Regions from separate parts of the Homo sapiens genome. Here regions 1, 2 and 3 are each linked to region 4. Evidence: fine-mapped expression QTL. A gene starts in region 4. Each other region holds a variant in brackets. All regions are shown on one strand. Distances are from middle to middle. Region 1 has its middle 87 kb from the start of ZDHHC21. Region 2 overlaps NFIB (nuclear factor I B). Region 3 overlaps ZDHHC21 (zDHHC palmitoyltransferase 21). Region 4 holds the start of ZDHHC21 (zDHHC palmitoyltransferase 21).

Evidence for each region. PIP is the estimated chance that this variant, and not a neighbour inherited with it, causes the effect.
Region 1: its variant is the best candidate, but not a certain one, in a credible set for the expression of ZDHHC21 in whole blood (INTERVAL, PIP 0.88).
Region 2: its variant is the best candidate, but not a certain one, in a credible set for the expression of ZDHHC21 in ovary (GTEx, PIP 0.57).
Region 3: its variant is the best candidate, but not a certain one, in a credible set for the expression of ZDHHC21 in esophagus muscle (GTEx, PIP 0.84).

Annotation. Positions count from the first base shown.
Region 1 is chr9:14,601,942-14,610,137 of GRCh38, forward strand. It overlaps a transcript of ZDHHC21 not described here. Among named protein-coding and RNA genes, the nearest start is that of ZDHHC21, 87 kb to the right of the region's middle. The variant A/AT (reference allele first, on the strand shown) is at 3,263.
Region 2 is chr9:14,181,481-14,189,676 of GRCh38, forward strand. All of the region lies in intron 2 of NFIB (nuclear factor I B), which reads right to left. Among named protein-coding and RNA genes, the nearest start is that of NFIB, 130 kb to the right of the region's middle. The variant A/T (reference allele first, on the strand shown) is at 3,834.
Region 3 is chr9:14,624,740-14,632,935 of GRCh38, forward strand. The region is part of intron 8 of ZDHHC21 (zDHHC palmitoyltransferase 21); the gene reads right to left. Among named protein-coding and RNA genes, the nearest start is that of ZDHHC21, 65 kb to the right of the region's middle. The variant G/C (reference allele first, on the strand shown) is at 3,648.
Region 4 is chr9:14,689,553-14,697,748 of GRCh38, forward strand. ZDHHC21 (zDHHC palmitoyltransferase 21) reads right to left here and starts at 3,880. Exons shown (of 10, transcript NM_178566.6): 1 at 3,677-3,880; 2 at 785-833. RefSeq lists silencers at 3,522-3,661, 3,742-3,811 and an enhancer at 3,885-4,385.

The DNA.
Region 1 (8,196 bases), 88 kb before region 4:
ACAATGAAAATATATGGACACACGGAGGGGAACATCACACACCAGGGCCAGTCAGGAGGTGGGGGAGCTAGGGGAGGGATAGCATTAGGAGAAATACCTAATGTAGGTGACGGGTTGATGGGTGCAGCAAACCACCATGGCAAGTGTATATCTATGTAACAAACCTGCATGTTCTACACATGCATCCCAGAACTTAAAGTATAATAATAATAATAAAAAGAACCTAACAGAAATATCGGAACTGAAGAATTCAATGAATGAAATAAAAAAATTCAATAGAGAGCTTCAACAATAGACTAGATCAAGCAGAAGAAAGAATTTCTCAACTTGAAGACAGGTCATTTGAAATAATTCAGTCAAATTTAAAAAATGAAGAAAGCCTACAATGACACAAGGGACCTCATAAAGTGACAAAGTATTCGCATCTTGGGAGTTCCATGAGATGAGATGGCCAAAGGCACAGAAAACTTATTTAATGAAATAATAGCTAAAAACTTCCCAAGTCTTGCCAGAGATACAGGCATCTAGATAGACAAAGTGCAGTGATTCCCAAGTATATTAAACCTGAACAGGTCTTTTCCAATGCACACACCATATAGTCAAACTGTCAAATGCCAAAGCCAAAGGAAATAAATCTAAAAGCAGCAAGAGAAGAGCATCAAGTCACATATAAGGAAATCCCCATCAGACAAACAGATTTGTCAGTAGAAAATTTATAGGTCAGAAAAAATGGGATGACATTTTTAAATTGCTGAAACGAAAAGAAACATACTCACAACATGAATGAATCTCAAAAATATGCTGAGCAAAAGCCAGTGAAAAACAAAGGACAAAAGCCAGGCACAGTGAATTGCACTTATAATCCCAGCCACTCGGGAGGCTGAGGCAGAAGGCCTGCTTGAGCCCAGGTGTTCGAGGTTACAGTGAAGTTATGATCATGCCACTGCATTCCAGCAGCCTGGAAAACAGAGAGAGAGACTTCATCTCAAAAAAAAAAAAAAAAAAAAAAAAAAAGGGAGAATTTCATTCATGCGAAATTCTGTAAAAGGCAAATCTAACTTACAGTCACAGAAAACAGGTCCGCGTTTCCTGGAGGGGTGGGAGTTGAGGGGGAGCAGTAAAGTGGCCTGAGGAAACTTTTTGGGTGATTGAATATTCCATATTTTGAATATGTTGATAGCTACATGGATATACATATTTCTAAAAACTCACTGAAATGTACTTAAAATGAATACATTTTGTTGTGTTTAAACTATCCCTCAATAAAGTGAACTTTAAAAATGGAAGACAGAAAATAATGTATTAAACTCCAAATTATATTTTTAAAAGTATGATAGGAAATAAAAACATAAATTCTTATGTCAAATAGGAGGAGTTACCTCCTATTTGAGGTACCATTTCTTACATGAATATTACAATTAGAAATATATAGGTAAATCCTCCTGAAATTTTTAAGATAACCACTGGAAGAATTAAATGCATGCTATACTTCAAGGACACAAATGACACTGCAAATCAGATGTGAAAAAATGTGCTAAACAAAAAATTGTTGTGGTATTTTTCCCCAGTGTGGTTTTTACTTCTATGAAGACCCAGTAACAAGCACAACCGTAACATGAAAGATTTGGATTCAACCACTTTTACATAAACGCAACCAAAGCTCGTTAATCTACCCTCATGTGATATATAAATTACTGAGCTAATCTTGATTTGCTAGATAAATAAAATATGAAAATAAGATCTCAACAGGCAATACTTATTTTTATAAGGACTTTACAAATTTATCTACCTGTGAAATATTTAGAAAAAGGGAATCGCTGCTCTTTATTAAGAAACAAATACAATCAAGTGGATCCTGAACTTTAGAGGGGTCGAACTCTAAGTATTCAGTAATGTGGTTTATCTCTGGCTACCTCATAAGAGCATAATTTTTTATTCATATTTATAGTCGTAGATGTTGACTCATCCCTTGATTTGCCTTAAGAAAATATATCCTTCATGAATTATTGAGTTATTAGAGTCATGTTTTTATTCACTTTTTCTCTCGATATTTACAAAGACTTTTTCCAGAAAATTACATTAGATTCCTGGCAAATCGATTGGACTGACAAATGATGCAGGAAGCAGCAAAAATATGTATCAATAACAAATAGGAAAAACTCATTACATAGGGTTAGTGAGGATGTGGGGGAAGATGAAACAATATATATGTTGGTTGGAGTGTAAATTGGTTTGACTAAAGAGCAATTTGGGAAAGCTTTTACAGTTGAAGATGCACATACCTTACCATTCCACTATTTCACTTCTCTTTGAACAAGTTAATAACAAAGGAAATAATCCACTTAGTGAATAATATATAAACTACAGTTTATTCAAATAATTGTTCTGTGGGATTTATAATGAATGGCCCAAATCTACATTAATAAAGATGTTTTGTTTAAAAAATGTGATGCTGATTAAAATTTACATAAATGTAAAATTTGAAAATAGTATCATTTATGGATGCTACATACATCATAAAAGCACAAAAACATTCATGAAAATAATTCACACTGACTTTAGGATGGCGGCTACCTCTAGGGAGGAAAACTGCAGGTTGAGGACTTAGATGTATCTGTAACATTGCATGTTTTTAGAAAACAAAGTGAGAAAACTGAAAAAAGCAAAACATTAGCATGTAATTAATCTTGGTATTTTTAATTACACAAATTTAGTAAACTCTCCAGTTATTATTTTTCATACTTCACATTACTTTTTATTGTGGCAAAAAGCACATGAGATCAATCCTCTTAGTAAATTTTTAAATATACAGTACGGTACTGTTAAATTTTAAGTATAGTGCAGTACTATAAGCATAATGTTATACAACAGAGCTCTAGAACTTTTTAAACTCGCGTGACAGAAACTCTATACCTTTTGAACAGCAGTTCCCCAATTCCCCCTCCCCACAGCAGCCACCATTCTACTGTTTCTATAAGTTTGACTACATTAGATACTTCATATTGGTGAAATCATGCAGTATTTGTCCTTCTGTGGCTGGCTTATTTCACTTAGCAAAATGTTGTCAAGGTTCAAGCTGCAGCATCTGACAGTATTTCCTTCCTTTTCTATGGCTGAATAACATTCCATTGTACGTATATACTAAATTTTCTAAATTCATTCAACCATCAATGGGCATTTAGGTTGTTTCCATCTCTTGGCTATTATGAATACTGCATTAATGAAATGGGGAGTGCAAATATCTCTTCCAGATCCTGGTTTC[A/AT]TTTTTTTTTTTTTTAATATCCAGAAGTGGGAATCCTGAATCATATAGCATTTCTAATTCTTCTGAGGAACTTCCATACTGTTTTTCAAAACAGCTGCACCATTTTACACCCCTAGTAACAGTACATAAGGGTTCCAATTTCCCCACATCCTCACCAACACTATTTTTTTCAAATGGCCATTCTAACAGTTGTGAGATAATACCTCGTTGTAATTTTGCATCTCTCTATTAGTGATGTTGAGCATCCCTTCACGTACCTGTTGGTCATTTGTGTGTCTTCTTTGGAGAAATATCTATTAAAGTCCTTTGCCCATTATTTAATCAGTCTTTATATGGATTTTTTTCTTCTATTAAGTTGTAGGAGCTCGTTTTGTATTTTGATTAACCTCTTAGCAAATATGTGGTTTGAAAATACCTTCTCCCATTCGATAGACTGCCATTTGATTCTATTAAGTCTCCTTAGCTATGCAGAAGCTTTTAAAGTTGATGCAGTCCCACTTGTCTATATTTGCTTTTGTTGCTTGTGCTTTTGGTGTTATCTCCAAGAAGTCAACAATGTTATGAAGATTTTCCCCTATGTTTTCTTTTAGGAGTTTTATACTGTCAGATCTTATGTGTTGTTAATATTTTGTCCATCTGAAATAATTTAGTTTCTCACTATACAATATTACAGAAACAAGTTTCCAAAAATGTACAAAACATTGAAGTTTGTAAAAATAAAGCTACACTGGGGTTTATGAAAATAAACTTCAAATGGATTCAAGGGCATAATAGTTAAAAAAACAAAAATATCAAAGTTTTCTTGAAAAATGAAGGAAAATACATAATCTTGATTTAGGAAAGACCTTTCTAAACAAGGTAATAAAACCCAGAAGTCATAATAAAAAGTACTAAATTTCAAGGTAGTTTAATTCTTCCATACAACATGATGATTGGGCAAATTTAATTTCCAAAGATGTCCTCAACAATATCTCCCATCCTATATACTTTTCCTGTGAAGTGTGACTCTGACACTCTTCCCATGAAATGGAATTATGTTCTCTCCCGCTGACTCTGGATAAGCTTGGGACTACAGGTTTGTGACTTCTGAAGCTAGGTGACAAAAAGTGACATAGTTTCTTTCTGGTTGTCTTGGGCCACTGTCTTCTAGAACCCAGCCATCATGCTGTAAGTAAGCCCAAAGTTATATGTAGAGGTCCATGTAGGTGTTCTGGATGATAACCCAAGCTGAGTTCTCAGCTGACAGCCAGCATCAACCATCAGGTATGCGAGTAAACGAGGCTTCTGTTGATTGCAGTTGCCAGCCATAGAATCTTCCAGGATCTTTCGGTCCTCCAGCTAAGACCTCAGACACCATGGAAGACAGAAAAGCTGCTGTGCCCTTTCTGAATGCCTGACCCACAGAAACTGTGACCATAAAAAAATGGTTGGTTTTTTTATGGCACTAAGTTTGGGATTGTTATATAGCAAAAGCAACTGGAACAATCACCATAAAGAAAAACAAGTGACTGGGCTAAATTTTAGAAACCTATTAAATAGATTAAAAAATAATACCCAGGAAATATATTAATAAAAAGTTACTAACATTTGACAAGCAAAGGTAACCTAGTCAAAAACCATAAACAAAGAATACACAAGAGAAAAAAAACCAGACGTTCACCTCTATTACTTTGCTACAAATTTTAAAGATTAATAGTATTCATGTGAGAATGTGTGTAAAGAATTTTGGAAGACATTTTGGTACTTCCTATCAAAATTAAAAATAAGTACATCCTCTGACTTGTCAATTTCACTTCTAGACTTTACCTACAGAAATACTAACAAATGGGCACAAATATTTCTGCACAAGACTGTCCTCCATAGCACTGTTACTAATAGCAAAAAAAAAAAAAAAAAATCTACATGATGCCCACTACAGAGGAATGGTTAAATAATAGTTTATTGATATGAACTGTACAGAAGAGGGTGGGCATGGTGGCTCATGCCTATCATCAAGCAGTTTGTGAGGCCAAGGCGGGCAGACTGCTTGAGCTCAGGAGTTGCAGACCAGCCTGGGCCACATGGCAAAATCCCGACTCTACAAAAAATATAAAAATTAGCTGGGTGTGGGAGGATGGCTTGAGCCAGGAGGTGGAGGCTGCAGTGAGCTGAGATTGTGCCACTGCACTCCAGCCTAGGTGACAGAGGCAGACCCTGTATCCAAAAAAAAAGTTATTATATGTTAATAGGGATAATCATATATCATTATATGATAGGAATATCATATATAACACATATGATAATGTGAAGGAAGGGGAGTGCAATGATGCACACCAAATTATGGCCAGTAGCTACTTTTGGGGAGGAGGGTGGGAGTGAAGATTTTGGTAACGGCAATTTTTTCCATTTTGTTCTAGACGGTGATAAGTGCTATGGGCTGGGGGCGGGGGGGAAGTAAGGACAAGAGATCAGGGCTGTTGTGGAAGGGTTATGTAAATTTTAAAAACTGATCAATTTTTCATGTTTACATAAAGTATAAAAACATCTATCAGTATGCTACATACCATGTTTAAAACAGCGTTCACCTCTGAGGAGGAAAAAGAAGACTCTACAGGGCTTTGAATACCAAAAAGTGAGGATCACTGAAGACCCTCTTAGAAGGTTCCTACCACAGCGATTACCCAAATTATTGGAGACTTTCAAACGTAAAAAATGTACATGAAAAATCAATGACAAAAATTAGAGCACTTCACAGCACAGTATCGTGCACTGACTGGATCAGTATTTTCCACATTGTGGGTACTTTTCCGTGATGAGAATATCTGAAATGCTTTTGAACACTGAAAAACTCGCTAAAAGCCAGACATCAAGTTACAAGTGCAGACCATCCAAAAACCCTTCATACTGGTTACTTCTAGACACCATTAAAATATGAACCTGTTTAACATAATGAGGATATGTGTTCTACAGCTACAAAGCTTACACAAGTTATAAAACAAATTTCATTAACTTGTTGGTCCTGACTTCAGCTAGGATTACGCATCTATAGTTTCAATGTGGAACTATAAAATCTCCATCTCGTACTAGGTACTCAAACATTCAGTTATGGCCAGTAGCTACTTTTGGGGAGGAGGGAACATGTCTAATTTTTTAAAGTTGTAAATTTCAATACTAAGAAAGATAAATATCACCCAAACCATGCTACAATTAAACTTACTACTAAAGACACACTCAAATACGTGTCTACAGTAGTATCTGAGTGCTTGGAATTGTATATTCCAAGTTCCTAATTTCCTCAATAGTCTGGCTTTCTTAAAAAATGCAAAACACACTGCTATTTTTATTGTGTTTGATCTTTAAACAGAGGTGCTTTCTTGTTTGGAGAAGGGGCCTAATTTGAAAATACTAGTCATCCAGAGGACATACAAAGAATGTGCTGTGACTGATACAAATATTTTTTTAAGTTAGCTTAGATGTATTTTTTTTTTTCAAGCTAACACATATCCTCTATCCTTCCTCAGTACTGTTTGCTCAGCTGGATGTCTACAGGGTCCAATTTTCCTTCCAATTGCTCTTGCACGCTAATATAATTGCTGCTCATATGGGTAATTGGTCAGCCTAGAGCAGCATTTGTATGCATTTGTTCATCTACAGTATCTGGCAACTTCTCAAATGATTTTGCACTCTTATAATACAATCACGTATTTTTAGTTTTTGCCTCTTTATAACAAGGCTAAGTAGGTGTGAATCTGTAAAGGATACATATTTTAAGTGTTCAAAAGCTGGAATATACAGATACACATTCCAATTATTTTTAGCAGTGGACGTTTCTTCTCACTTATCAGAGTCAATGAATCTAGTCTCAAATGTATGTTCCTCTGCTCCACCTTCCCCAATTGTTTCCTCCCCAAACAAAGCCAAATTAACTAGATTAAACCACACTATCGCTTAAAAAAGGTGACAAGCCATTTTCACTTAATACTGATGAAACAGCAAAAAACCATTAATTTTACTAAAGCTTGTTCTTGAGCACATTTTAAATATTGTTTGACAAAATGGAAGTACACATAAAGCACTTCAGGTGAATTCCAGAATTTAATTGTATTATTACTAAAGAAAAGCACTTGTGTGACTGTTTGAGTTGCAAGCTGAACTAGCCACTTTCTTTCATGGAACACCATTTTATACTTGAAGGAATGACTGACAAACCAGTTTTTCAGACTTGGGTATTTGGCAAGCATTTTCTCAAAAATAAGTGAAGGTAACCTGTCACTTCAAGGACAACTACTGACAGTATGTGGTTGCCAATAAAAAAATTCAAGCTTTCACATGAAAATTAGAATTCTGAAAAATGTAATCTGTCACCACAAACTTAACCGCTTCCCAGTACTTACTTTTCTGACAAGATCAGTGGTAATATTAATGAATTTAATTTTATTTTGTATGGCTAAAAGCAATACTTACTTTTCTGACAAGACCAGTGGTAATATTAATGAACTTAATTTTGTATGGCTAAAAGAACTTTCCAAAGTGAAAAAGAGACCAGTGGATTTTAAGAACACGAAAAGTTCCTTGGTATTGTTTCTGACTCCACATTGGAACTAACTAAACTTTAAGAAACCATCACTTGAGTTTTAGTGTAGTACCAGAGGAAAATATCCAGTTACCTGAAAAGATCAGAATACTCCTCCTTTTTCCAACTACATTATCTGCACAAGATCAGACTTCTCCAGATACTTCTAACAAAATAACAATTCAATTGGTCTAATGCGAAGCAGTATGAGATCCAACTTTCTTCTATGAAGGCAGACATGAGAGCTTTGCAGAAACATAAAATCATGGGTCTCTAAACAAAAATGTTATTTATGTTAACATGTAATGAGTTTATGTTTAAATGAATTAGCAACTATTTAAATTTTTTCCCATTTTGTTTCAAATTCTCCTAGATCCTAATC
Region 2 (8,196 bases), 510 kb before region 4:
GATTCAGTGACTTATAAATTAGGAGATCAATCTTCTTCGTTCTACATTCCTTTAAAAAACTGGTACAATATGGGCCACTTTCCAGGCCTGGAGTATGATAGCTACATAAAAATGATAAATCATAACTTTTTGCTATAGCATCAGCTATTTTTACCTTGAGTTCCTCTGACAAATGTCTCTCAGCATTGATATTACATTCCAGTTTAATTTCTCAAGCGATTCTAACATTTTTTAGGAATTCCTACTTATGTATAATACACCCACTGACCAGAGCCTCCCTATGTTTTACTTTCCCTCCAAAGCTATCTCACTCTTATGAAGGTCTAGACATGCACCCCTCAAGGTGGCTAATGCCAAGCTTGTGATGACACCTGAGATAGTTAAAGTTGTCAATTGTTGCAGCAGTCGCCTTATTTCAGGAGTTGTAGACTCTGCATGAGCCTTAGCATGTTTAGTTACAGCAACTTCAAAATGGTGCCGCAAAACTCTTTTCCATCATCTGTTGCTAAAATTTGGGTCCAGCAGAGAAAAGAATGAAAAGTCTCTTCCATTCGTAAGAAACTATCCAGCTAGAACAATGGCATCCCCTGTTACCACAACATCCCACTTGGGAAACTCTATTCTTTTCTGCTATAAATTACTTTTTCTTCTCATTTCCAACAACTGCAGACCAACTTCTTCGATTGAAAAAATATACTTACTAAAAAAACCACAAGCATTTGAGGGAAAGCTGAAGTAGACCCTAAATTTGAGGCACACATTGGCTTTTTGTAACAATTCCACTTTCTAAAATGATCTGGTGTTTACTGGCACACAATGACAGACTCCTTCATATGCCAAAGCCCATACCTTCTCATGAAATAAAGCAGTGTATACTGTGTCTCAGAAACATAGGAGAGGGCCCTCTCAGTGAGCAAATGATAGAGCATTTACTTTTCAGACTGTAAATTCTAACACTATAATCTACTCTTAACTCTTATGTCACCTTATATCGGTCACTTAATTCCAACTGCTGGAAAAGGAAGTAACCAGGGAGTCGTGGTTGGCAGAGAAACCAAAAATGAACTGTTATTGTGGTTGACTTCAGAGAAGGAATTATTCAGACCACATCTAAACCCCTTCCAATTCACCACCTAGGTCAAATTACTCTATACCCAAAGGTTTTATTTAACCACTTCCATCACTTTGCTCAACACCCCCCACCTCTCTCTCTCTCTCTCTCTCTCTCTGTGTGTGTGTGTGTGTGTGTGTGTGTGTGTGTGTGTGTGTGTGTGTGTGTATTTAATATGTTACAGTGAAGCCTGGCTCTGTCCCTCACTAGTGACATGATCTTGTACAAAATTACTTACTCTTAAGAGTCTTGGTGTCTGGATCTTGAAAACTGCAATAATATTATCTACCTTGTAAAATCATTGCAAGATTCTATCACATTAAGCACCAAAAGCATTGGGTCAGACACAGTCTACATTATCAGTAAATAAAAGATATTAATATTAAGCATAGAGCCACATTTAAAATGATTAATATATTTAATGGTTTAAACATATTAAAATGAAAAAATTAATCATTTTTAATGTGGCTCTATGCTTAATAACAACTAACTTTTAGGAAGAAAGGGAGAAAAGGGACATAACTAAGTTCTGTCCATCCCAACACACGCATCTGAAAATGACTGGTGGGATGACTAAGCATGGAGAAGTGTGTGCCTACCTGAGAAATCCTGTGTAAATGCTTTCACCCCTCATTCCCCAAAAGGGAGGAGTCCACTGCTCTTCAAGGCTCTTAGCAGCTGTCATGCTCAAAAGGCAGTAGATACCAGCCAGTTGATGAAAATTACCTTCCAGAAGGCTGAAGTCTTTGAGGAACAAGGCTGCTAAGAGTTGTGAGCTGCCCAGCATACTGGGTCTGGTGTCTGGGAAAAAAAATTTTTTTTTTTTTTTTGAGACAGAGTCTTGCTCTGTCACCCAGGCTAGAGTGCAGTAGCACTATCACAGCTCACTGAAGCCTCCACCTCCTGGGTTCAAGCCATTCTTGTGCTTCAGCCTCCCGAGTAGCTAGGACTACAGGCGCACACCACCACACCCAGCTAGTTTTTGTATTTTTTGGTAGAGACGGGGTTTCACCATGTTGGTCAGGCTGGTCTTGAACTCCTGGCCTGAAGCGATCCGCCTACCTCGGCCTCCCAAAGTGCTGGGATTACAGGTGTGAGCCACCACACCCAGTTTAGTGTCTGGAAAGATTTTGATGCAGTAGAGAAAAAGAGAGGAGTTTTTGGAGGCAGCCAACCAAAACCAGTCCTCCCTCATTCTCTTCCACCTCTCATTTTATCTTCCTCGATCTCAATCTCTATTTTCCCCATTCTTTAAGTGTGGGTTTCATGTTCCCCATTCTTTAAGTGTGGGTTAAACATATGTTTATTCTTCTAAAAAAAAAGTAATGAAGTTATTTCTAAATTACTATATTTTAAACTCAATCAGTTCCTTCTTCTCCAGGTTAAAGATTCTCCAGGAACAAGAAAAGGTTCACATTCATGCACGACCCTTACCAACTTTTCAATCCTTTCGTCCACTCCTTTTTTAAAAGCGGTCAATCTCTCGTGGCTCTTCTAATATCTAAGCTTACCTAAGGAGTGAGCAGTTTTTCCTATGACCCAATTTTATGGAAGATCCTAGGACACATAAGTGATCAAACGGCTTGTCCAAAGTTGCATAGCAACTATTAAAACTTATGTTCTCTATATGGACAGCCTATTCAGACACAATACTTCTTGAATCGTTATGATGCAATCCTAAAATAATGCGAAGCTAAATGATTTTTCAGTAGTTTAAATGTTTCTGGGAAACTTACCTTCCCCTAACCTCCCTCACCCTTCCCACCATTCACCAATACATTCAAAATCTTTTTCAGAATCTTTTTTTAAACCTTTAGCTATTTTCTATATCTAAGTTGGAAGCAATTATTAGTATCACTGAACTCTATATACTAATTGACGTTTTAAAGAGAGGCCAATTCTATAAATCAAATTTGTCTCCATTAAGCAAAGGAAATTCTAATGTTTTATGGACAATCTGGTGGAAGCTCTGTAAGATGTGTGTTAAATATATATGACAATAAATAAGTAATAGCCTGTAAAGTATTTCTTACTGAGCACTAACTTTCTGGAGTAGATACACTGCAACTATCTGAGGTAGATAAATCATCAAAACTGTCAAATTTTTTTTGTAGGTCATTAATGTAAACATCATTTAAATGTAAATCAATTAAGATTTATGCTCACGCCTGTAAATCCCAGCACTTTTGGAGGCTGAGGCAGGCAGATTACTTGAGGCCAGGAGTTTGAGACCAGCCTGGCCAACGTGGTGAAACCCCGTCTCTACCAAAAAATACAAAAAAGTAGCCAGGTGCGGTGGCACACACCTGTAATCCCAGCTACTTGAGAGGCTGAGACATGAGAATCACTTGGACCTGGGAGGTGGAGGTTGCAGTGAGCCAAGATCGGCTCATGTATTCCAAACACCTGGTAATGTTTGGAACACAGTAGGTGCTCTGTAATGCTTATTAAATTTATATTTAATTTACAATAATGACCTTTAAATATTGTTTTAAAAAAAGTATACTCTATGCCATGTAGAAGCTCAGAGGCTGCCTGAAGAGACAGAAATATACAAATAAAAAAATACATAAATCAAGAGGGGACAGATGATTCTTCCTAGGAAAGGTGGGCAAGGGCATATCATAAAAGATATCAAAAGAAGGTGACCTTAGGAACAATGCCGTGAAAAAACGACCTGATTTCCCACCTTTCTAAGACATATTTCACTCTTTTACCAAGA[A/T]GATCTTTATAAGACCCAAAACTGATTAAGCTAAACATCTGCTAAAACCTTTACATATATTCTGAAAATAGTATGCCATTCATGGCACCTTGATCTGGTCCCCATCAGCACCTGGGTCATACTTTAGCCTTTGGACTCCTTGTGTGTCTCCTGCATTTGATGTCTCCAAGTCTGTGCATAATGTTCCCCCTTTTTTCTCCCTGAAGTCCCCCAGGGTGAGGTCATCCCCTTTACATCCTCAACAATATGACACGAAGTCTATTATTGCCCTATTTAGCCTTATAGCCCTAATCTTTGGGATAGGGCCTGGCACATTTGGTTAAGTCAAATGAACAGAAAACCATCAGTCTATAAACTATAAAAGTGCACAAGAAAGAAAGACAAAGCATACCGCTCTGTGTAAAATCATACAGTAGAAGTCAAACAGATAAATTTCTTGTGGCAAGCCAGGGAAACAGACACACAATTCCCAGGGCTAAGTCTCTCAGTCTAATGTAAGGCTCAATCCTACTTCCCAACTTCCTGAAGAAATATTTGGAAACAAGATAGGGTGGATAAGACATACTATTTTGAGTTAGAAATTATTTTTTGTCCATCTCCTATAAAGAGAAGAAATGTTTGTTGAAGGTCCATGTCCCTACTTTGCAAGCACTGAGGCAAGAAAGTTTTAATGACCTTTATAGATAAACTTTCTACTCCTAGATGAAACTTCTTTTAGGAACTCTTTTTATTCTCTGACACCATGGCTTGAGGATCAACAGAAAAAGACAACTGGAAAAGCATAATTTTAATTTATAATGAGTTTGGTGCAAAGAAGGAGCTGTACAAGGTGAGTTTTCAGGTCCCCTGTGGCTCTAAAATTCTATGATTCCATAACAATATAGCTTTTATATCAAGGGATATCAGAGGAGTAAATGAAACCCACAATGTAACCTGTTAACCTACAGATAGCCTCTTGCTAGAACTAAACTTAGTCATCCTGTGATAAAGGGCCCTTTTGTCATAGTTCTTTGCCTTAAGCAGGTGAAGAAATAGCCCATTGTCAATGAAAGAATACCATGAGATTTTTTTTAAGGCTCAGAACAGTCTCTTTCTTTCTCTCTAAAACATTATTAATTGATAATATAATAAAACAGTATATTTTTACAATTAAATATATAGCATGCCAGAAACAAGACGTAACAGGTAAGAAACAAAAGCTTGACGGAAGGAATACAAATGCATGTATTTTATAGTAGGGAAATAAAAAGGTAAAACAAAAACATCTATATTATTAAGGGTAATGGAGAGCAAACTATTCTCCTTGGGCCAAACCTTCTTCTCTCTTCCCCTCTCTCTGCCCAAAGTTTTCTACCTCACTCTTTGCAGTTTACTGTCTCCCATGACTGATTCCTTGGGATTTACAGAACACTAGCTTTCCATAATCAAGTTTCCTATTACATAATTTGGCTTTTTTTTTTCCAGCACAGTTAAAACACCAGGCAGCTTCAGTTTTAATGGAAGGTTGCTTCATTGCTTTGGGTGACACAAAATTATAGTTCTACATTATTTTATTTTCTCTCTATTAGATGTGTATTAAAATAAGACAACGAAAGAACATGGGAAAACTGAGTGTTTTCCTTGCCTCTCATAAGCATGTAAATGTTTGGGAAATGGTTTCTCTCTCTCTCTCCCTCCTTCATTCTTCGCTCCTGTGTGTGTGTGTGTGTGTGTATGTGTGTGTGTGTGTGTGTGTGTGTGTGTGTGTGTGTGTGTGTGTGCCTGTGTCTCCCTTTATCTCCTGTCTCTCTCTGCTTCTGTCTCTCTGTCTCTTTTCAATAGGGCATTAAATTATTTGGAGTCCACTTCACTGCAAAACTTAACTTAACAAGCTGTTCATGAAAAGTTTTAACTTTATCACTTTGTTAATGGAATCCCTGATCTTGTTTGTTGTTTGTTTGTTTGTTTTTTTAGTGAATCCGTACTCCTCCTAAACCCAGTTCTGAGCAATAAGAGAAATTAGACCTCTCTGAATATTTTGGCAGAACCAATATAATATTTGGGAGATGCAGTTTCCTGCATATTTTAAACTATTTACTATTTCAAGTATGAAGACCTATATCTTCAGATCCCTCTTTCTGTTGTTTAACATTGATTTTAAAATATACGTTTGATTTAGCAAAACGCATAGTTTAAAAAGATGTTGCTACACTTAAGATCTTCATGATAAAGTAATTTCATTAACCAAAGAAAACTACAGAACAAGAGAGTAGATATACGATATATCCTGTTTCATTCCTGAACATCCCAGTTGTTTTATCATTAAGCTTTCTTTTAAAGAGCCACTTTTTTGCTTAACAAGGAGATTAGGTACAAAGAGTCATATCCCAAGGATTAAAATAAGGATTTGTTAGCGCTCAAGACTGAAATTTGTCCACAGGGAATTAACTGAAAAAATAGGCCACTGAAATTTAAGGTGGAAAAAAAATCATATTATCAAAAATCATATATCAAAAAAAATCAAAGCAAATCATTCTACCACAGGGGACTACTAATGAATCCCCTGCAAATATGAAACCCTGCACAAAAAGTGTTAAACCTGCCAACATCTCTGACCAGAGGGCTGTGGTACTTCATTAAGTAGTACCAACCCACCCCCCACAACAATGGGAAGCTAGGATAATCATATCTGACCTTTCTGCCCTAACCTAAGATTAAGTTCAATGACTTCCTACTGATCTAGGGATTGAGTGAACCAAAGGTCATAATCAGGATCACCTACAGTTCTTGCTTTTGAAGGCTTTAACCTACAGAATGCAAAAACACCGTACTGGTCATTGTCAAGATTGCTGACTTTCTACAGTGTGTTTTCAATTAAGTAAATAAAATGTGGTAATTAAATCAAGATTGCATAATATGTTTTTGATTTGTAATCTTATTTAAATTAATTAACTGACTCAATCCTTGCTTAGTTTTTAAACTGGTCGAGTTAGGGAAAGAGTCCCTGGGAGCAAATCCAGTTTTCTATCTTTAAAAACAAGGCAAAGCAATCTGGCATACTTAAAAATATACATTAAATGCACCAGCATAATATAAATACAGAGGCAAGGGTGCTAATGTAGAGGAGGGAAGAGTTTTATGGCACGATTTTGACTAAAAGAAATAGCTCTCGCACTAGAGAGAAATAAACTAAAACATTATTTATTCAAAACATTTCTTTTCGAATTTTATGAAGATTGCATATTTGTTGGAAGCAAAACATTTCCAGCTGTATTTTAAGTTTCTGAAGAGGGTTGTAAGATTTATAATCTTTCATAAATGCTGCCCATATCTTATAATATTAGATGAACACGCCACTGCGTACTTTGAGGAACAATTTGCCAACGCAGTTTGCCACATGAAAATAATAAAGTCCTTTCCAAAACCCAGCCAGATCCAGTAGGAAAAGATGAGATGAATGTTCTTTCTTTTCCATCTGGGAGACATTTTGGATTTCAGCTATACTATGTAATATACATTTTTTCCCCTTGGAAACCAAGAAACCTGCATTTTACAACAAGGTATGTAGTGCAAAGAAAATGCTGGTGAAATAAGAATCTGAAAATGAAAACCAGAATGTCATCAGACTCAAGAACATAATCATGAAGGCAAATCGAAAAATCAATGCAGAATTTCAACATAAAACAAATGCAATGTTTATGATCCTATTAGTCTTAAATTTTTCTCTTAAAAGGAAAGCATAGAAAAATAAGTGCTGTTTTACCTCCAAAGTCCTGAACAGCATTTATGTTACTACCTAGCACCATGACTTACATATCTGGTTTATCCTGGAGTCTTCACGCATTATTCTAAATCCCACACATACAACACTCCTGTGTACACATGGCCCCTCTGTGCTATGTCACTTCATGTATTTTCCCAACACTTAATATATCTAGGTTAAAATCAGACATAAGACTTTCTAATATTTCATTGGCAATCTTTCTTCTCAGGGAGCAGGACATGTTCTCTCCAAACTGCCTGGAGAGTCAGGACTCTGGGCTCTATCCGGCAACTGCCAAGCACTAGCACGCTGACTCTAAGCAAACCATTTCACGCACGAATCAGTTTTCATCTTGCCCAGTGGCAACTAGTTAATGAAAGGTAAGAGTTTAGTCTTAGTTGTTTTCAAAGGAATTAGAAATACTAGGAAAAAAATAATTTCACACAACAGTGAAATATGCACAAGTATTTTTGTGGAAAAAGGCTATGAGATATATATATTTAATGTTCTTTAAGGTTTAATTAGTACTCCTCCTCCCCCTCCTAAAAAAAAAAAAATCCCCACCTACTTGGTTGCACTGCCCCTTGCAAACGCTGACAACACAGGTAATTGAAGGGCTGG
Region 3 (8,196 bases), 65 kb before region 4:
AGTGTGATTACAGTCAACAAAGTACTGTACATCTCAGAATAGCCTGAAGAGAGGATTTCGGATGTTCTCACCACAAATAAATGAAAAACGTTTGAGGTGATGGATAAGTTAATTACTGATTTGATCATTACATTATGTATACAAATATTGAAGCATCACATTGTACCCCATAACTATGTACAATTATTATATATCAATCAAAAATTTAAAAATTAAAAACACTACTCAGGCAAGTTTTTCACAATTAGAGAAAAACTTTGCCTGCTTTATCTATTACTAATTTATATTAATTCTAAGAAAGACTTTCATTTCACTTCTTAGCACCTCTGATTAGTATATGAACAGTAGCTCATTTAACTTTAAATTTTTCCATAGCACTTAGCAGCACATACTGTACAAAATGGTCAACTTAATATAAATTTGCAGCACTAAACTAATTGGACATGAACAGAAATAGCATGATTCCTTATTTTTAGTTTTGTTTTCAATCAAAAGAGGGAAATGTCCTGTTAATCTTAGCTCTGTCTTCCTTCTACTTTCCTCATTTGAAATGAATGGTTCTTTAAGCACCCATTTCCAACAAAAGACCAGCTATGTCTTTTATCAGGGATCTGAAGTTCACATAAACATCGAATCAATCATAGAACAAAAGTGAGAAGGCAACAGATCTTATATTTATAGACACTGAAAATCTCTTTCCAAAATAATCCTCACACTTCTCTTAATCTTAAATGCCACTTTCTGACTGTATAATCTAAAGAAAATTGCTAAAACTCTATACCTCCATTTCCAAATAATAACGCTTACCTCATAGGTTTTTGTGGGGATTAAATGAGTTAATTATGTCAAAACCCCTTATAACTCCTCAATAAATGGCAGTCTTAAGATTTTAGTGATACTGCCTACTACCTACTTTTTGAGAGGGCTTGGAAAGAAATACCTCAATTACCTCAAAATGTAACTTTTCAACATTATGTTTAAACAAACAAACAAGTGGTTTTATAATGAAAAATAAAATAATAGGGACTACAAGAGACTACACATATAAAATCCTATGCCCTCTAAGAGCTTATAATCCAGTTGAAAAAACAAGTCCTAAATATGTAAACCATGATTCATTCATTCATTTATCCATCTATCAAAAATTTACCAAGTATCTATTATGACACAGTCCTTAGCATCATGGAACTTACAATCTAGTAAAAGTAGTCAAGTATACAGGAAATAATTATATAGTAACATAGAGAGGAAGCCAGCAAGGATGATTATATACAATAATGTTTTGTAGAAATAAGTCTCGCACTAATCAGAATATTTGGAACAGCTGAAAAACTGTTTATAATCAAAACTCAAATTTAACTACTCTTACACTTTTAACACCAAAATTATACTTTGATAAGATTTTTGGTTATTAGTAGAAATAAGATGGGCATTTAACATGCCCCTTTGGCTGAGATTCAGGGAATAATAATATATCAATAAAATGTACATAAATTATTGTGCCAAAATACCATAAGCAAACCATAAATATAAGATTTACTGCTTTCTGCAGTCCTATGTTTTAATGTCAGATTAAATATTTGTGTGGATTCAGATCATGAAATAATAAAATGAATATCTAGGAAAAATTGTTAGTAAAAGGAAAACCCATAAATGTTTAGTTTCCTTACGAACACTTTTTAAGCATCTATTTAATCACTCAAGCAATCAGTAGTGATTTAAGGACATATAAATAAATTATAGAAAAAGATTTCTTTTTAATTAGTTTTATCAAAAATACTTACAAGCAGTTTATTACACTGAGCAAACAGAAATTATGCAATATAAATATGCTTTTACATAGGAACATGCATATGCTAAAGAGTAGCCCAATTCCACACACCATAATTATCAAAATAATTTTGATAATTTTTTTAAAAGAGTATTTCATGTAAATATGAAATATAACTTGGTATTTAAGCAAATGCCCTTGGCAAGGGGGAACCTAGTTTTTTATAAACTTATCATATACAAAATTCTAAAAAATATTATACCCAATTTTACTATATGACATTAAAAGCATATTTAAAAAGAAGGGACACTTTAAATTTTAATTAACTTTCTAGGTTTTAAAAAAGCTATAAAATCTTTCATATAATATTACAATTGGGAATACTACATTAGAAATACATTTATTTTATTTTTATCAAGCAAAAATTCAGAGGAAGACAAAAATGCCTTACAGAGCTCCCTTTATAGAAGTATATGTGAGCTGGGGTCAGCATAATTAGCAATGATGTTCATGTCTGCAATGCTGACCTGGAGCTGAGTACATCAAACATAATTGTTATAAAGAGTGTACTGAATGCTATTAATTCAAAATAATTTGGCAGAATACTAGGCAAAATTTAACTATAGGAATTAATCATTTGAGGACTACACTTCTGTGTATAGATTAAAAGGCAAGTAAATCGACTGATTCGTAAAATGCTGTTTACTAGACAGTCTCCTTTAAACTGATTTCACACTTGGAACACAAGATACTTTTCAGTGAGTAAGGTAGCCAAGTTAAAACTGTCACCCCTGCATTTATGATTTCTCCTGTATTTATTTAAGTAAACATTAACTTGCTGAGTTAAATATGAGCCAGTATTTAGGGGGGAAAACATTTTCTTCTTAATTTGAAAAGCTTTGATTTAAGCTATCTTCAGCAATTCAAATAGAATCCAACAATAGCACCTGTGAAACCAAATGCAAAAATCACTATTTTTTTGTTTGAGAATTTAGTCTTTTACAAAATTGCAACTAAATACATCTGTCTCACCCTACCCCCAACCTCACCACAACTGAGAAAATCTCCAGAGACATCATCAAAAGCTTACACTATTATATAAACTCCACAGAGCCCAGAAAACAAAAATGCTTGTATATAAAAATTAGATAAACTGTCAGAGCAGTGTCATGGTACACAATAGCTCACTGTCAGAACCTCACCAGAATGCGCTGTACCAGCTGTTACAGCACTTCTTGATTAACTCTCTCCAAGCCCAGTGACTGAGAACATGACAAATACAATCACCCAGCACTATTAGTATTGGTGCTCATCAGAATGGACATTATTGTTGGCTATGTGTGAACTACTGCTCAATAATTCAGACAACATCAATTACATTAAATAACATCACTATCCATTTGATTCAGAAACAGCAAAAAAAAACCAAAAAACAGGCTAAACAGTCTGAAGTCTAAAAAATAATTTGACTAACCTGTTTCCCTTAATAAAAAATGCCTCGAAGTAGACTGATTTGAAAACATTTTTATTCCAATATAAATTGTAGTAAAAACGCACAAAAACGTATATTTAAATCCTGTTTAAAATTAAATCGAAAAATAATCACAGGTAATCCTTTTGAATTGGGCTTCAGATTAGTCTATTTAACAGAAACATCTGGTTGTGTTGAAATCTTTTAACCTTGAAAATGAGATTAGAATCCACTATTTTTAAGTTAAAGTAATTTCTAATTATTTTATCTGGGTCACAGATAATCTACTCTTGCTAGGTCTAAAATGACATCAGATTATCACTGCTATGATTATCCTGTTATCTTTCACTATCAACAGGAAGATGAGATAAATGATTTATTTATTCCAAGTAAAAATGAATAATG[G/C]TAAAAAATTACTGAAAAGTGATATGCTGCTTCCCTGAAACCTCAAGCTAAATCCCAAAGAGACAACACTTATTTTGCTTGTTTGATGTCTAGTAGGTCTATATTCAAGCTATGCAATAAAATAGTTTACGTAATGAAATGATATCCGTATCAGTAGTTTCCCAAAATGCCTCTAGGATCTTTAGGGTGCAAGAGTAGGGAAAAAGTAAGACTGCAATGGAAGGATTAAATTTACTGTGATTCTTTCTCCCACTTCTTTCTTATGCAACCTGACAAATTCGTCACTTAACACTGTAAAGAGAGATCCATGGATTCGAATTATGACAAAAACATGTGCAGATGTATAATTTCTTGTAATCTTAATTTTATCACAAAACAGCAAACTTATTTTATAAAGTAAGCATCATCTATATTTTAACTTAATTAAAATATTAAATAGTATTTAAGTGCTAATTTAATTCATTCGATTTAAAATTAAACACCGAATGCATTAGACTTTTAAATAATCAAGCCTCAAAGAATCTTAAATCAATGTGAGGAAGAGTATATTCTGGAAACCCTTTTTAATTTCTTTTTTAAACCCCAAAAGGGTAACGCTTGAGGTTCACTATGAAATCCCAGCTAAAGAGATTTAAAAATTCATTGTAATTCTAAAAAGTACTCGTATTCAAGAGAAAGTAAAGTGACTAAAGGTTAGGATAACAAATAGAATATATCCTCTCTCTTGCTTTCTCTTTCTTAACAATTCTTTTTTGATTGTTTTACAGAGGTGTAATTGCTATAGATACCAGCAGTGTCTGGTACAGTGCTCTGAGAGGTTACTACACATATGCAGAAAGAGATGAAACTTTTGGAGGGAGCATTATTCAACAAATGTGGTTTCCACTCGGTTTTAGAAATATCACCTCATAACCAAATCTCTCTACCTTAATAAAATGTAACGTTCAATACTACAGAAAAAAACCCTTGCAATTTGAGAATTAACATGTTGATAGAAGGGAAGAGAGTCAGAATCAAACCTGATACACAAAAACCATAAATAACTTACAGAAATACCTCGAAGATATTGCAGGTTTGGTTCTAAACAATGAAGCGAGTATTGCAATAAAGCCGGTAGCAAAAATTTTTCGGTTTCTCACTGCATATAAATGTTATGTTTATGCTATACTCTATGAAGTGTACAACAGCATTATGTCTAAAACACAATGTACATACCTACCTTAAATTAAAAATTATTTATTGATAAAAAATGCTAATGATCATTTGAACCTTCAGGGAGATGTAATATTTTTGCTGGTAGGGGGTCTTACCTCCAAGTTGACAGCTTCTGATTGGCCAGGGTGGTGGCTGCTGAAGGCTGGGGTGGCTGTCAAAATTAAAACAATAAACCGGTGGCTCACACCTGTAATCCCAGCATTTTGGAAGGCCGAGGCAGGTGGATATTGAGGTCAAGCGATCGATACCATCCTGGCCAACATGGTGAAATCCCATCTCTACTAAAAATACAAAAATTAGCTGGCGTGTTGGTGCACACCTGTAGTCCCAGCTACTTGGGAGGCTGAGGCAGGAGAATCGCTTAAACCCGAGAGACAGAGGTTGCAGTGAGCCGAGATCACGCCACTGCACGCCAGCCTGGCGACAGAGAGAGACTCCATCCCAAAACAAACAAACAAGCAAAAAAACCAATAAAGTCTGCTGCATAGGTTGACTCTTCCTTTCATGAACGATTTCTCTGTAGCATGCGATGCAATTTGATAGCACTTTACCCACAGTAGGACTTCGTTAAAAAATGTGGAGTCAATCCTCTCAAACACTGCCACTGCTTTACCAACTAAGTCCATATACTCTTCTAAATCCTTTGTTGTCATTTCAATAACGTCCACAGTATCTTCATTAAGGGTAAACTCCATCTCAAAACACCACTTTTTGGGCTCATCCATAAGAAGCAAATTCCCATTCATTCAACACTGATCATGAGATTGTAGCAATTCGGTCACATCTTCCACTTCTTATTTCTCTTGTTATTTCTAGCACATCTTTAGTTACCACCTCCACTGAAGTCTTGAACCCTTCAAAGTTAACCATGAAGTTTAGAATCAACTTCTTCCAAACTCCCGTTCATATTGTTATTTTGGTCCCCTCCCATAAATCGCAAATGTTCTTAATGGCATCTAAAATGGTAAATCTTTTCCAGAAGGTTTTCAATGTACTTTCTCCAGATCCATCAGAGGAATCACTGTCTACAGCAGCTATAGCCCATGAAATGTATTTCTTAAATGGTAAGACTTAAAAGTTGAAATTACTACTCCTTGATCCATGGCATGCATAAGGGGTGTAGCAGGCATGAAAACAACATTAACCTCCTTGTATATCTTCATCAGAGCTCTTGAGTGACTTGATGCATTGTCAATGAGCAGTAATATTACGAAAGGAACTTTTTTTCCTGAGCAGTAGTTCTCAATAGTGGGCTTAAAATATTCAGCAAGCCATGCTGTAAACAGATGTGGCTGTCACTTAGGCTTTGTTTTTCCATTTCTAGGGCAAAGGCAGAGTAGATTTAGCATAATTCTTAAGAGCCTAGGATTTTTGGAATGGCAAATGAGCACTGGCTTCAACTTACAGTCACCAGCTGCATTTAACCGTAACAAGAGAGTCAGTCTGTCCTGTACCTTGAAGCTTTGAAGCCAGGTATCGACTTCTCCTCTGTAGCCACAGAAGTCCTACATGGCATCTTCTTCCAATAGAAGGCTGTTTTGTGTACACTGAACATCTGTTGTTTTGTGTGGCCACCTTGATTAATCATCTTAGATCTTTTGGATAATTTGTTGCAACTTCTACATCAGCACTTGCTGCTTCACCTTGCATTTTTTATGTTATGGAAATGCCTTCTTTCCTTAAGCCTTAAGAACAAACTTATGCTAGCTTCCAACTTTTCTTCTCCAGCTTCCTCACCTCTTACAGCCTTCATAAAATTGAAGAGTTGGGGCCTTGCTCTGGATTAGGCTTGGTTTAATGGAATGTTGTGGCTTGTGTGATCTTCTATCCAGACCACCAAAAATTTCTCCATATCAACAATAAAGCTGCTTCACTTTCTTATCATTTGTACGTTCTGTGAAGTAGCATTTTAAATTTCCTTCAAAAACTTTTCCTTTGCATTCATAACTTGGCAATTTGGCACAAGAGGTCTAGTTTTCGGCCTGTCTCAGCTTTTAACATGCCTTTCTCATTAGGTTTCATCATTTGTAGTTTTTGATTTAAAGTGAGAGACATGCAACTCTTCTTTTCACTTAAATACTTAGAGGCCACCATAGGATTATTATTTGGCCTCATTTCAACATTATTGTATCTTAGGGAATAGCAAGGCCCAAAGAAGAGAGATAGAGGAATGGCCAGTGAATGCAGCAGTCAGAACACACACAACATTTACCAATTAAGTTTGCCATTTATACGGGCGCAGTTTGTGGTGCCCCAAAATAATTACAATAGTAACATCAAAGATCACCAATCATAGATCATAGTAACAGATATAATAATCATGAACATGTTTGAAATATTACAAGAATTACCAAACTGTGGCACAGAAACAACAGGTAAGCACACACTGTTGGGAATATTGTACCGAAAGACTTACTCAATGCATCATTGCCACAAACCTTCAACTAGTTAAAACACACACAAACACACACACACACACACACACACACTATCTACAAAGCACAATATAACAAGTATGCCTGTATAGCATATATACTGTGGATAAGAAATTAAGTGTTTATCAGAATATATTCAGTAAAAATGTATCAAAACTACTATCAAGCAACAGTAATTAAGAAAGTGTGGTCCTGGCATAAAGATATCTCTATGTCATAAAGATAGACATACAGATAAATAAAATAGAGTTAAGAGTCCAGAAAATATCTAGTTAATTTTCAACAAAGGTGTCAAGACTATTCAATGGTGGAAAGAATTGTCTTTGCAAGAAATGGTGCTGGGACAACTAGGTATCTACTGTAAAAGAATAAAGATGGACCCCTACTTCACACAATGTACAAAAATTAGCTCAAAATGAATCATAGTACTAAATATAAAAGCTAAAACAATAAAACCCTTAGAAGAAAATATAGGAGTGAATTTTGTTGACCTTGGATTAGGCAATGGTATCTTAGATATGACACAAAAAGCATATACTACCCAAGAAAAAAATAAATTGAAACAATAAAAAGTACTAATTTTGTGCTTCAAAGACACTGTTAATAAAGTGAAAATATAACTAAGAGAATGTGAGAATATTTGCAAATCACATATTTGCAAATAATATATCTGAAAAGGGACTTATACCTACAATACATAACCTTTCTAACTCAACAGTAAAATGGCAACCCAATTAAAACATGGTCAAAGGATTTCTCCAAAGATATACAAATGGACAACAAGCATGTGAAAAGATACTCGACCTCATTAGATCACCAGGGAAATGCAAATTAAAACTATGATGAGGTATTACCGTTTTTTAAAAGACAGGTAATAACAATTGTCACCAAGGCTGTAG
Region 4 (8,196 bases):
TTGTTTTTGTGTGCACCAGTCTCATGAGTGAAAAATAAATGTACATGACTGTATTAGTAGTACTACACTGCAGTATTAATACTGCTAACACTATCCTAGTAGTATTACTACTAGTAGTATTAGTACTGCTAATACAGGCATTTACCTTTATTTTTCCCTGCTTGCATTAACTTGCTTTAACTTTAGAGAAAGTAGATAACTGGGCCACTGTTTTTTGGGTATGTTTGTCTGAGACAGGGTCTCACTATGTTGTCCAGGCTGGAGTGCTGCAATCACAGCCCACTGCAGCCTCAGTCTCCATTCTCCCTGGCTCAAGCTCACTTCATTAGAATCTTCTAACAAAAAGTAAAAATAGCTTGGGAGGTGTGGGGTGATACGAATTAAAGACCACCAAATATTGTTTCAGTCAGTACAAAAGGTCTCTGTGGGAATTTTCATTAGGGAGATAGGAGTGGGAAAAGGGACTGAAAAGGCAAGATTAAATGTAGGATAGGGACAGGGATTTAAAAAGGTAACTTTTGTTCCAAAATCAGCACAAGGAAAAAACCTTCAGATACAGTAAAAGCCAGAAATGAAGAGGCCCAGGCTTTTCCTGGGTATGAATCAAGTATGTTCTTCCAAGAAGGAAGGGAAGCCTGCTACTTACCTTCTAGTACCCACCACACCAAGAGAGATTGGTGGGGGGTTGGGGGTAGAAGACTAAATTAGATTTCCTTCACACCAGGCTTTACCAAAGCAGCCATGATTTAAGAACACTAACACCATAAGAAAAATCTCTCCTCACCTGCTTGCTGAAGCTGAAAATCCTGCAGTAAGTGAAAAAGTTCTTCATTCTGTAATTACAGATAAAAAGCTTAAAATCAGAAGCTTGGTTGACATCACACTTGAGCATTTTAGGTTAGATTTAAAATAAAATTCACCAGTGAATGGTAAAATATCAATTTTACCCAACCTGCCCTTTTGTAGAAGGGGCAACACATCGGTTAAGAGAGTCTCTGAAATGGGGAAGAAGGTTAATCTACCCTGAGAGAAATAGCACAGAGGAAAAAGCAGCTTGAAAGGCAGAAGGCAAACTTCAAAAATGTCACAATTTTGCCTAGGTTAGGTCTAAAGAGCAAAACAAACACATAAAGTACCATCATACTAAGGTATTTTTGTTCAGGGACCTATCAATGAGCACAGTGATGATTCACATGTCTATGAAAATGTGCTTTTTAAACTAGTCTGACTTGACTTATCAAGAATTCTTAACAAATCACTTTCAACAATAAAAACTGTTTTACAATTTCACCTGTATTTTTACCTTTAATAAGAGTTATTTAAGCACTGATTATTCTACTAGATGCTAAATTGCCTATTATATTTAATGCATGTGAAAAGTTGAATCTGAGCCCTAATGTTTTACTAAAACAACATAAAAGGTTACATTCCTTAATATAAAAGTAAAACTGAATTTAGGGAACAAACTCTTGGCAATAAAAACAGCCTTTCCTCTGCCTTCCCTCTTTTGCCTGGTAGTATTGATACTGCCACTGTGTCACCTCCTATGCTAAAAAAGTTTTCACTGAGTCACATTCAATTACAATTCCAGAAAAACAGCTCCATGTTGAGACATTACTCAACTTCTCAAGCAGTTTCTTTACTAAACCACTATATAATAAGACTAGCAGGAGGACAAACAATAAACTGCTCCTTTATTGACCTTCTCACTCCTCTCCTCTCAACCCAAAGAGGTTTTCGGGAAAATGGCTTATGGATGGCAGCAGTTTGCACTTGTTACTATTCACTATAACAGGTCCCTGGATTGTAACTGCAGAGACCATTTGAGTTACGGTCTTTTTCAAGCTATATGTGGGTCACATTTTATAAAACCATTATTTTATTCATGCATTTTTCCACAGGTTCTGAATCGGTCATTACGAATTAAAGAAATGAGGCAGTAGGCAAATAAGAAGTACATGTTATGATTCATTGATTCTTGTCTCAGAACTTCCTGTTAAGCTGATTATATGTCTGCATTTTTAAATGCTTAGATTTCTCTTATTAAACAAAGTACCTCGTAGGCAAAAGTGACACGGTCCTCATCATTTTCTTTAAATGACGCTCTATTTCATTTATTCCAACTACAGCTTCTCAAGTATGTTAACAGAAATCTCAGTAGTGTCAAAGGATCTAATAGAATTGTTTCCATCGAAAATGATGAATTCTGGAAGAGTACTACACCAAAACAATTATGGAATTATACATTTTAACTTATATTTTCATATTTTACTAATACTTCGTATATGTTTTTAATGTACCTTCAAACCACGTTAAAGGGTCTTATTTAAAAACATTTTCCAAGTAAGCATGGAAAAGCTAAAATAAGCCTTAAATAATTTAGTCTGGCTCTCTGATGGTATAGAGAAAATAACATGGGTCATTGCCCTACCTGTAAACCCACAGCTGGATAGTGACAGAAATGGGACTAGAATCTAGTTTTTCTTTCCACGACACCAAATCTCATTTGGCTCTTTCTTTCCAGTGGATTTCTCACCTCAATTCTTCAAATATCTTTTTGCTTTTAAGAGATGGCACAAACTAAGGAAAAACAGAGCATCTCTCCGAATTTTACCTTTAAAATAAGTAAAATCTAAAGAGTTGGAAGAATTTAATATTACACCAAAAGCCTTTTAATCCAGGAATGGCGCATACTAAGCAGTCATCAAATGGTGACTGTTATTAATATTATTCTTACCACAAGGAAAGCAGTGAATTTTTAAAAGTGCATATATTAGCATAGTAGGCTGAGGACCTATTTAACACATCTTTTTAAATTGCACTTAATTATCCTTAGTCGCCTTTGGACTGTAACTTTACAATATAATTTATGACCCGCCCACAATGACCTTGATTTTTTTTTCTCTTCTACTTTTAGAGACTGCTATATTGCAATATTTTAAAGTAATAATTGGTCATGTCCTCTCAGCCCTGGTGATACAGACATCCACCCTGACTCTCAAGGGATCTTAAAATGTGACCCACATATAGCTTGAAAAAGACCGTAACTTAAATGGACTCTGCAGTTACAATCCAGCGACCTGTTACAGTGAACAGTAACAAGTGCAAACTGCTGCCATCCATAAGCCATTTTCCGAAAACCTCTTTGGATCAAGAGGAGAGGAGTGAGAAGGTCAATAAAGGAGCAAACTGTTTGTCCTCTCTGCAGCTTCACACCAGAAGTCTGGAATGAATGAAAAGCTCTGGAATAGCACAGAGAAACCCGGGATCCCAGTGCAGGTCTCCAGACGGGGGTGCGGGGAGAGAAACTGTAGTTTACAAGCGAGAAACTCAGGATACAGATTTAAAATAAATAAATAAATAACTAGCCAACATCGTCTCGACTAGAGCAGGAACCCCCCACCCCCAGTTGAGGGAGGAGCACTTAGCAAGGGGCTGTAGCTCTAGCAGAAGACGCTCTGAAAAAGGCCAGGCCTGGGGCGGGGAGGCACCGAGAAACCCCCGGGTTCCAAACAGAGCAGGTGCAGGGGGCGTGCAGGAACAGGTGAGGGCGTCCCGGCGCGGAGGAGCGGCGGGCGGGCCCGGCAGAGCGGAGCGGGGGCCGGGGATGGGGGTGGGGGTGCGGATGGGGATGGGGGTGGGGGCGGCCGCTTCGCCCCCGCGCCTGCACACTCACCGTCGCCGCTGGCTCGCCTCTCGCTGCCGCCGCTCTCCCGACCGCCAGCAGCTCTTTCCCCTCCTCCTGCCGCGCCACCTCCGCCTCCTCCGGCGCCGCCGCCCAGGCCGGGCCGCTCTCCCCTTCCGCTTCCGGGAGCCTGAGGGCCTGGACCGGCCGAGTGGGTGTCCGCATGCCCGCGCGCCCGCGTGGGGAGGGACGACTGCCGCCGTCGCCGTCTCGCTTAGCTCCCGGGAGCCGCGATGGGAGCCGCTGAGGGCCGAAACTCCTGCAATCGCGCCGCAGCCCCAGAGCCGCGGACCCAGGCAGACCGCACTCTCCAGAGCGCTTGCACCTGGCGCGCCTGGGCGCCTCTGCCCCTCCCCAGCCCTACTTGAGCCGTCCTTCTCATTGTCCCCATATCCTCACTGCTCACCTCTCCCGAGAGACAGGATGGGGGCCTTAGCTTAAAAGATTGCATGTATCCTTTCTTCGGGGGATGTGGCCAGCAGGCCTCTCTCCCCGCAGGTGTTCTGGGATGTCCCATGGTACCTTGCTTCAAAGCGCGGTCTGCAGCATCAGCATCCTCTGGGAACTCACAATCTTTGAAATGCACAATTTCAGGCCTGCTGAATCAGTACATGCACTTCAGCAAGATCACCAGGTGACTCCTGGGGTGCACCGTAAAGATGGAAAAGCATTGCACTGTAGTGCATGGTCTCGTCCACTTCAGACCCTCTATTGGGTTGCCTCAGACATCCCAGGATATTTCCTGTTCCTGTCCTCAACCTAAATCCACACCCAAACAATCTTTTCTTATATTTTGGGAGACCTCCAAAAGTTTCCTGCTTTCCCATCCCTGCAAAAGCCGACAACTTTTGGACTCAGCGATGCAAGTAATCCACCTCTCAGTCTAACTTGGTATCTTCACCAAACACCAGAGATCTACTAACTTTCCCACCTCACTCCGGCTGAACAGTATTTGGGGAAGGTTAAACCGTTTGCAGTAATGTGGAGCTAGATCTTTCTGCCCACGTGCCACAGGAGGAGACAGTGTGTTGGTGGAAGAAATATTACCTGTTGTATAAAATCTGTATTCCTTATAAGATGTGCTTAAAAGCCCTCCACAGACACATCCCTACCTACCTCTCCAGTCTTAGCTCCAACTAATTTGGTTCATTTCCCCATTCTAGAATGCCCTGCTCTCTGATGATCTTAACCCTATCCAGATTTGAGAGTGGAAATCTTGCCAAACCAGAGTTCTCTCACCACTGCCCTTATATAGTGCACATTGTTGCCTGTTTGGGGCCTCATATTACCTTGTATTGCTAAGGATTTTTAAACATGTTGTGTCCTGGTTTCTGAACTAATTATAAACACCTTGTGACCTTAAAAACTTTGGTCAGTGGTTATCAAAGTGGGATCCCTAGACCAGCAGCATCGGTATCACCTGTCAACTTGTGAGAAATCCATATTCTTTTGCCCCATCCCAGATCTACTGTAGTAGAAACTGTTTAGGTGTAGCCCAGCAATCCGTGATGTAACAAGCCTTTTAGGTGATCCTAATACACACTCAAGTTTTAGAATTACTGACCTAGATTACTAGATATTCCCAAAAGAACCCAGTGGTAGGAATTGATTTACCCATAAGCAGATTTTATTGCCTTTCAGGTTAACAAATACACTCCCCGATATATGCATAGCGAGGTTGAAAGACTAGTCACGATTGCTTTTGATAGAATTACCTTTATTTTTCATAAATCATTTGATGTAGTAGGATTTTTGTAACTTTCTCTGTTTGAAAAGAAGGAGATATTTCATATAAACAATCACTTTGAAGGAAGAGGAAATGTGGAATCCTCCCACCGGAATCCAGCTACCTGATTGCGTATTCAATGTGAATCCCTTCTACCCAAATCCAGCTACCTGATTGCATATTAAATGTGGACTCCTCCCTACCCGAATCCAGCTACCAGAATTGCATATTAAATGTAAAATCCCCCCCCCACCCAAATCCAGCTACCCAATTGCATATTAAAAGTAGAATCCCCTCCACCTGAATCCAGCTACATGAATTGCATATTATTTTGCTTTCTCTTCAGATACCCCTGTGAGAGGGAATAATTTGTGACAAGTGATCTCAAAACTGCCAAAATAAGAATTAGTTGACAGGTCCATGATTGCACATGACAATTGGAAGTGCATGGATTTTTCAGTCCCTTTTTAAAATAAGTTAGCCTGTCTTTTATCAGCCAAATCAATTCCACAGAGAATTTTTAAGCAAGGGAATAGGAGAGAAGAGGCAGGAGAAACATCCTTAAAAACATGAACCTTTTTAGCATGGGCATTTCATGAGTATAATCAAAGGCCTGCCTATCCCTTACACTGAAGGTCAAGTCATCTGGTTCTATCATTCATGCTAATCATTGGTTATATTGTATTGCAACCCATACATTCAGGCACCTGGGTAACAATAAGGGGGTGAGGGAGATGTGGCATCAGGTAATCTTTTGAAAAGATTTTCTATTTACTGGGTATATTATGGAAAGACGATATAGATCGTACCATATTTTTTCCCTCCAGAATTCTAATCTACTTCATGGGGCCTGGGACAAACTGAAATGTGATTATTAATCAAACTAATATTTATCTGGAAGTAGAAAAAGTAGACAAGGACAAGTAGCATTGCTGCCACTGCCAACCAAGCTTCTAACAAAGGCACACTCAGGGCATTTATGAGGGTAAACACAGCCAACTCCTGTGCTTCTGTGCCGTGACTAGGGAGGATCTGGATTTTAGTGCAATTTCCAAAAATCAGTGCAGTCCAGAGTTTAATCAGTACTGGCTAATAGCCCTTGGCAGCTTTGGATGGATGGCATTCTCCACCTGCCCAGCTGGGTACCATGCCTTAAGCACCCATATTTGATGCACATTCATGATTTCTTGGTTGCCTATAGTTGTCTCTCCCATCTGTTTGAGTGGCAGAGTGCCTGTGCCATAACAATCTAATATTCTAAAAGTTGTTCTTAACCTCTTCTCTTTTGGGTTACACATCTCTTTGAGTATCTGATGAAAGTTGTGGACCCCAGCAAAGTACACATATACACAAATACACACACACACACACACACACACACATATATACACACACACATACAGGAACATATATATTTATATATATGAAATTTATATATATGAAGTTTCACAAGTTGCCCCACCTTCCTATGCCTCCAAAGGATCACAGCGAAGCCAGGAACTTCAGGCTAAGAAATATCCCTAGAATGTAGAGAGTAGGTAAAATAAACATTTTTCCCCAAATATCAAGGAAAACTGCAAAACAAACAAACAAAAACGACTGTGTGCTTAGGAGAAAAAAACAATAGCAGTGCTAAACAGAGTTACAAGGAAAGTTTTATGGAAGTGCTAATGAAGAAACTAGTAATTTCCATGGGATAGTTCAAGGGTGGCTTCTTGGAGAATGGTTCCTGTATCAGGCAAGTGAGAATAGGATTTTGATTGGGGGAAAGGAGGGAAAGAAATTTCAGGACAGAGGAAAGTGTAAGCAAAAACATAGAGAAATGAAAGTGCAAGAATCCCTCTGGTGTGGCTCAAAGGTAGGATACATGGAAAGAGAGAGGGCTGGAAATGTGGAACAGATTCCAAGCATGGTGAGCCTCAGAAACAATGCTATTCCCAATGAAGAGTCCTTAGGCTTTTGGCAAAAGGTGATGACCTGCTCCAAGCTGGAAAAGACTATTAGTGAGGGCAGTGGTATTATCAAAAGGCAGAGTAGTGGGGCATCTGGAAAGGTTCTAAGTATACTACATTGGAACCTGTTAGGCCACATTGCTTTACCTCAACTTTGGATTGTTTGATGGTGGCTCTAGAAGTTTCTATTCAATTAAATCATGATGAACCTGAGATTCTTACACTTGGTTAAGTGCTAGTAGGAAAACGCATCCTAGTGAATGTTCTGATGAGTTGAGTCTAGGATGCTGAAAGAGTTAAAATCTCTTTTGGATTAAAAGAGTGAGAATCAATTTGGACTGAAAAGAGAAAAGAAGCCCTGCCACTAATCAGACAAGGAGGACAGACACAGATAAAGCCAGCTGCAAAATTAGCAGGAAACACTTTCTGCCAAGGTCATGCAGCAGTTATAAAGTGCCATAATGATCCCCTCTTTAGGTGATTGCTGACTTCTCACCAATGATGCCCCTGACTGCTGGCTATTTTCATTTATTACTAGAGATACCCAATTGCTCAGCCATCATCCCCTCATGACAGCATCCAATCCTGGCTAAATCTCTCTTTTCCTAATCCCACCTCAAAACAACCAATCCAAAATGGATACCTGCTTCCCTTAGATGCTCCTCAAAATTCTTCAATGGAAGTTCAATTTACAAAAGATGCCTCCTTCCTCCCTCTTGCCTAGGAGTGACATCTCTCTATGCAAGGCAATAAATATGAGTTTGTCAGGCTACAGGTGTAATCCTCTAGGTTTTAACAACTCATTTGATGATGAAAGTTTTCCACTCCCCAGG